Homo sapiens: one gene and its partner. The protein of the gene in region 1 interacts with the protein of each later gene in a pairwise test. Each region holds a gene or a part of one and is shown in the gene's direction. Other genes may lie near its edges.

The links.
Region 2: the proteins of SLC51B (region 1) and ASPH interact in binary tests that used the Homo sapiens proteins (3 or more experiments, as listed by UniProt).

The regions. Positions count from the first base shown.
Region 1 is NC_000015.10:65,048,387-65,051,141, forward strand, and holds part of SLC51B (organic solute transporter subunit beta), read left to right. Parts: intron 1-801; exon of another isoform or gene 802-1,510; 5' UTR 1,511-1,618; coding exon 1,619-1,715; exon of another isoform or gene 1,716-2,755.
Region 2 is NC_000008.11:61,503,993-61,508,592, reverse strand, and holds part of ASPH (aspartyl/asparaginyl beta-hydroxylase), read left to right. Parts: intron 1-4,600.

The DNA.
Region 1 (2,755 bases):
TAAAGCTAGTCCTTTTGTTGATACTCCAATTTTCTGTCTGGCTGTTTGCCATCTAGCTGTTTTTGAATGCCCCTGGCTAAGTGTCCAAAGGCTATTTGGGGCTGAGATTGTTGAGCACCTAAGGCAGTGACAGAGTGTGAGGGGACCTGAGAATGCTTCGATCCTCCCTGTACACTTTTTTTCTTGGTGCCCTATGGCATGTTTTATAATTGATCTGTTCAAAACACTTCTCTTGTTTTATTTTAGTTACGTTTATCTCCATTCCTACTCCCTTCCTCCTCCTCCCCAAGACACAGCTTAATGTGTTTAATGCGTGTCCTTTTAAAAAAATGTGTTATTGGGTCAGGCGCGGTGGCTCACTCCTGTAATCCCAGTACTTTGGGAGGCCAAGGCGGGTGGATCACCTGAGGTCAAGAGTTCGAGACCAGCCTGGCCAACATGGTGAAACCCCATCTCTACTAAAAATACAAAAATTAGTGGGGCGGTAGTGACATGCGCCTGTAATTCCAGCTACTTAGGAGGCTGAGACAGGAGAATCGCTTGAACCTGGGAGGCGGAGGTTGCAGTGAGCAGAGATCGTGCCACTGCACTCCAGCCTGGGCGACAGAGTGAGACTCCGTCTCAAAAAAAAAAAAAAAAAAGCGAAATAACTTAACAATTTTAATATTGGCCTGAATAATATATGTTGTCAAAATTAATTTTACCTATTTCTTTTTGTTTTGTAAAGTATGGATGCTAGAAAATTTTATATTAAGTAGTAATAATGCAGTTAGTACAAGAAGACGTCAAAATGTCTGACTGTTTTGAGATTGACTGAGGTTCAGTTTATTATTAATAGTTGGGATGGAAATAGGCCTACACGAAGTAAGGGATTTATCCAGAGAGCATGGATTCAAGTTCTTCCCTTGCAAATAACAGAAACCAATTCTGCTAACTTGTCCAAAAAAAAAAGAAAAAGAAAAAAAAAGCTCTCGGGGTCGGGGCAGGGGGTGCCCTCTCAGCATCAGGAGCCGGCAGCTGCCTTTCCCTCCGGCACTTTTCCCTTTTCTCCTCTCTGTGTCGTAGGCGTGCCAATCCCCAGGAGAGAGGCGTGATAGGCCCAGCCTTTGACATGTGGGGAAACACAGGCCTGTGATTGGCTACCGCATGACACCCAAGGGACAAGTTGCTATGGCAACGCGTGGGCGCGCTGTGGGCTCGTAGAAGCCAGGTGCGGACGCTGAACAGGCAGGCGAAGACCCGAGATGTCCTTTGCAAGGGTCCCAGAACTCGCCAGTGGCTCAGTCCTCCTCACTCCCAGAACAGTGCTCCTCCACACATGCGATGGCTTTTAATAAATATTTGAGTCACTCCCACTTCCAGTCTCTGCCCCTCCAGGCTCCACGTGCTCCTGGGTTCGTTCGGGTCGTTTTTGTCCCATAACTTTGGGCCAGAGGAGATCTGGATTTGGGCACAGAGGGAGATCAAACTCGGGTGGGATATCCAGTCATGCTGTCTGCTTTGTTTCCAGGGGTCTTCACGGCTTCTCTGCCCAGGGGCCAGAACCGAGGAGGCCAGGAGGGCTGCTGGGGCTAAGGGGTCTAAGGACCTCGTTGCACACGCTACCAGGAGCAGGGGCATGGAGCACAGTGAGGGGGCTCCCGGAGACCCAGCCGGTACTGTGGTACCCCAGGAGCTGCTGGAAGAGATGCTTTGGTTTTTTCGTGTGGAAGATGGTAAGTGGTGAGAGATTGACGGCAGGGGTGGGGGTGTGCCCCTCAACACAGAGCAGAGTTTGGCTGAAGGTCCTGACACTGTCGTCCCCTCCAGGTCAGGCGGTACATTTCCTCCAAGACAGGGAATCAGTCGGGGTGTCTCAGTACCCAGAGGGGTCTGGCTGGACCGCCCCTTCCTTTTCTCAGGGTGTGGTCGCTTATTTATGCAGCCCTCCAATCATCACATTTATTAAGCTCCTACTCTGTACCAGACACTGTTCTCAGCACTGGGGCGACAATAGTGAATAAAACACAAAAATCTCTGCCTTCATGGAATGTACATTCTAGTGGGGATTAAAAATAAACAACTAAAACGCATAGTGCGTTGGTGATGAGTAATAAAAAGAAAAATTAAACAGAGAAAGAGAATAGGAAGTATGCAGCAAGGGCAGTAATGTGGTCAAGGAAGGCCTCACTAAAAAGGTGACATTTTTATCATCAGGAAGGTGACTTGCAGGAAACTAAGGAAATAATTAGGTATGCAAATTATTTGGGGGAGGAACATTCCTGGAGGGAGGACAGCAAATGCAAGAGCTCTGAGGCTGGACCCTGCTTCATTTGGGTACAGCATGGACAAATCTTGAGTAGCCACATTCAGTTTAGTCACTTCATGTATTATCTGTGGGCAGTTGCCATTCCTTCCACCCTTCTCCCTGCCTTCTTTCTTTCCTTTTTTTTTCTTTCTTCTTCTTCTTCTTTTTTTTTTTTTTTTTGCCTTTTTTTTGAGGCAGGGTCACTCTGTTGCCCAGGCTGGAGTGCAGTGGTGCAATCTTGGCTCACTGCAAGCTCTGCCTCCTGGATTCAAGTGATTCTCATGCCTCAGTCTCCTGAGTAGCTGGGATTACAGTGTATGCCACCACACCCAGCTAATTTTTGTATTTTTAGTAGAGACAGCATTTCACCATGTTGGCCAGGCTGGTCTTGAACTCCCGACCTCAGGTGATCCACCTGACTCGGCTTCCCAAAGTGCTGGGATTATAGGCGTGAGCCACTGAGCCCAG
Region 2 (4,600 bases), on another chromosome or scaffold:
GCTAAGATATTATCTATAAAATTTGTAGGTAGAAGACTCTATAAGCACCTAGTATCATTACTTAGCCTTATTAATATCAATGGTAATTCTGTGACCAAATTATAGTTATTAAATATGCACTGCCACCATTTTATCATTATCATTATTTATAATTATAATAATTTGAGAAGTTGACAGATTATGGAATACTGTTTTATCTTAGGACGAGATATTCTTATATCTTTTGACAACCCAGAGAGAGACTTTCTTCTCTTAGTGGTAAGAAATTCTAACAGAAGGCCAGGAACAGTGGCTCACACCTGTAATCCCAACTCTTTGAGAGGCCAAAGCAGGAGAATTGTTTGAGCCCAGGAGTTGGAGAGCAGCCTGGGCAACATGGGGAAACCCCATCTCTACAAAAAAATCCAAAAATTAGCTGGATGTGGTGGCACATACCTGTAGTCCTAGGTACTCGGGAGACTGAGGTGGGAGGATCACCTGAGCCTGGGAGGCGGAGGCTGCATTGAGCTGTGATGGTGCCACCACACTCCAGCCTGGGTGACAGAGCAAATCCTGTCTTGAAAAAAATAAAGGGTTAGGTGGGAGGAGAGAAAGAGAGAGAGGAAGGGAAGGAGGAAGTTCCAACAGTGAGCCAAGCTTCCAGGGATGGAGAGCAGTGCCCACCCCCAATGCTGCTTCTCTGGGTCCTTAGACAAGGCTGTAACAGTACTTCCAGGCAGACCTCTGTCACAGGCCGCTCTGAAGATTGTTTCTCCAAAGGGCTGATTGTATGTCGTAATTCGAGTGTAACTTAATCTTATTTGATGGAGCTTTGTTCACAAAGCAAGTGGCCTGAAAACTAGTTCTTTGCATTCTAATGAGAGTCTTTGGTTTTCAGTCAGAAGCGATTTGACATCTTTATGCTCCTCTCCCTTTGTTGTGGAAAAAAAACATCCTTTCCCAAGCATGTGATACATCTCGAATTTAACCTGGAGTCACTTAAGTCTGGACATGGCTTGTAGGATGTTTTATTGTTCTTCATTTTCCCCTTTTAGGTGAATCGTGACTACAGTTTTAGTCATTCTATCTCTAATAACTGATTGAAAGACACCATTTTTTTAAGAATTCAGAAGAAATCTACATTAAAAAATCTACATTATGTTATTGACTATCTTTGCTATTTTCTGGGGAAATGTATGAAAGAAAGTGGAAGGGCAAATAAGTCCGACAGCACTCACTTTCCCCATAGAGTTTTATGACCCTGAAACAGGCCAATTAACAACCCTTTGGTATACCTCCCCAAATTTCTTATTTATACAATTGGTTAATTAATGGTTTACACTGATCTGTATTGTACTTAATGTATCTGGAAAGCTGCAAGCCTGTGGTTCTTAAGTTCTACTTTTATATGCACTGATGTTCCATGAGTGACCAGCGTGTTCCGGTGCTAATAACTTTTCCCAGTTCTCAGGAATTTAATTTAATGAATGGAATGCTTAAGGCCTTTTTCCCAGAAAACAATTCTAGATCTTTGGCTTTGTTATACGTATCATAATCTAGTGAAAAATGTCATTTTGTGTGGGCTAGAATTTTCTATTCAGTTATTTTAATTACTTCTAGTGTTTTAAGTAGTTTCCAGGTTCTCTGCCACCCAAAAAACTTTGAAAATCACTTGTCATTGCTGTACAAACTACATTTCACAGATGCTCTGAAGATGTTTTTATATCTCATCTCCCTTGGAAGTTTTTAGTTGTCTCAAAGGAAGGCAGACAACATCATAAAGAGTGATGCATATGTCATTTTTGATAACATACCACTTCCCAACATTTCACCTCTGTCTTTTATCTTTTCCCTATTTTTCTTTATATTTTCATTTTTCTGTCATTAATTGAATATCTACTATTGCCAATCATATGCTAATCCTCACATCAATTATGCCGATGAAGACACAAAGAATCAATTATGCTAAGTAGCTCACCTTAGGTCCCATAAGTAATAAATGCCAAGGTCAAGAGGATTCCCCTCAAAGACCATAAATTTCCATCTTCCTGTATTGCTTCTTTCTTTCTCCTCTACCACATGCTCTCCTTTGCCTTTCCCTTTTTTCTCTATTTAATTGTAGTAAAATACACATAACAAAATTTACCATATTATCCATTTTTAGGTGTGCAGTTTAGTGACATTAAGTACATCCATATTGTATAACCATCAACATGATCTATCCTCAAAACTCTTTCTAACTTGCAAAACTGAAACTATACCCATTAAATAACTCCCATTCCCGTCCTCCCACCGGCCACTGGCAACCACTCTTCTCCTTTCTCTCTCTGTGAATTTAACTACTAGTCTAGGACCTCAGATGTGTAGAATCAACTAGTAATTATCTTTTTGTGTCTGGCTTATTTTACTTGACATAATGTCCTCTGAGTTCATACATGTTGTAGCATGTGTCAAAATTTCCTTCCTTTTTAAGGCTGAATTAATATTCCATTGTATGTGTATACCACATTTTGTTTGTCTGTTCATTCACTGATAGATACGTGGGTGGCTCTCACCTTCTAGCTGTTGTGAATAGTGCTGCTGTGAACATAGGTGCACTGCCTTTCATTTTGAGTACACTTCCTCCCTCATCTTCTACATAAATTATAGGCTCGTTTGTGGTACCCACTGACATTGCTTAATCCCGGTGACAACACTGAGACCTAGAAAATGCCTGCCTAACTGTGGAAGCTGTGGACTGTTTCACTGATTTTTCTTGTCAGCGTATTTCCCCGCCTTGGTTTTGCCTTTCTTCTCAAGTTAGATTTTGCATGGTAATGAATGCATATTCTGTCATTTTCTCCTAAGTCCATAGATTTCTGTCTTTTGCTACCCTTGATGGAACTCCAATGGAACTCTAAAAACCTTCAGAGGAGTTGTAGAAGAGCCAATCAACATGTGTGTGTTGAATGCAAGAGATGAGGCAAGGTGTATTAGTCCGTTTTCATGCAGCTGATAAAGACATACCTGAGACTGAGAAGAAAAAGAAGTTTAATTGCACTTACAGTTCCACATGGCTGGGGAGGACTCAGAATCATGGTGGGAGGCAAAAGGCACTTCTTTTTTTTTTTTTTTTTTTTTGAGATGGAGTCTTGCTCTGTCACTCAGTCTGGAGCACAGTGGCATGATCTCAGCTCACTGCAACCTCTGCCTCCCAGGTTCAAGCAATTTCCTGCCTCAGCCTCCTGAGTAGCTGGGATTACAGGCATGCGCTACCACGCCTGGCTAATTTTTGTATTTTTAGTGGAGATGGGGGTTTCACCATGTTGGCCAGGCTGGCCTCGAACCCCTGACCTTGTGATCCACTGTCCTCAGCCTCCCAAAGTGCTGAGATTACAGGCGTGAGCCACCGCATCCAGCTGAAAGGCACTTCTTACCTGGTGGCGGCAAGAGAAAATAAGGAAGATGCAAAAGCGGGAACCCCTGATGAAACCATCAGATCTCATGATACTTATTCACTATGATGAGGACAGTATGGGGGAAGCTGCCCCCATGATTCAAATTATCTCTCATCGGGTCCTTCCCACAGCATGTGGGAATTATGGGAGTACAATTCAAGATGAGATTTGGGTGGGGACACATCCAAACCATATCACGAAGTGTATGAGATAGCACACTGGGTGGAGGTGGGAGGGTGGGTAGTAGAAGTAGAGGTTCAGTTCCCAACTTCAGTGAACTTTCAACTTGCAAATACTCAGTACTTTATCTGTTAGTTTACATAACTTGGAAATTTTATTATCAGACTTATTCAGTATGTCAGTTATTTTCCACTGGAATGATTTTTGCTCCTGCTCCCACCCTGGACATTTGGCAATGACTAGAGATGTTTCTGGTTGTCACAACTATGGCAAAAACTACAATTACTTTTGCACCAACCTCATGGTATAGGGAATGCTACTGCCATACAGTGGGTGGAGGTCAGGGGTGCCGCTAAATATCTCATAGTGCATGGAACAGCCCCTACAACAGAGAATGATCCAGCCTAGATGTCAGTAGTACCACGGTTGTGAAGCCCTGCAATATATGTAGTATTGCTCAGTTTATATTAGTTAATCACCTGATATGGAACATAAAAATTCACCACTAGTTTTCGCACAGAAAACCTCTTTATGATAATATAGTAACTTGAAATCAAGCTAGCATTTCCCATGCTATAATAGTCATTATTTGCTAATCCAGGATGTAAAATTTTGAAGGCTTAAGTGGCATTTTAGTATCTAAGGAAAATTTTCTAGCAAAAATTTTATTTTAAAAACATAACTTGGTATTTAATATATTGGCAGTTAATATCTATTTTTAAAATAAGGAACCATCAGTGTCCCTCATAAACTCTCTTTGGATTTGAAAAGCATTGTGTTACTGCCTCCTGTATGTTTCTCTCTTAATAGACTAACACTATATTTAGATCGCAGTCCCTATACAGATATCTTATGAGGTAAAGTTGGAAGCTCTATAGGGTGTTTTGCAGCATTGATTTAAAATATCCCATGGATAACCCACTTGCATAGAAGATGATACTAAAAATATAAACAAAATTTATTCCCAATCTGCCCATTTTCTTCAGCTGGAATACTAGCTAGGA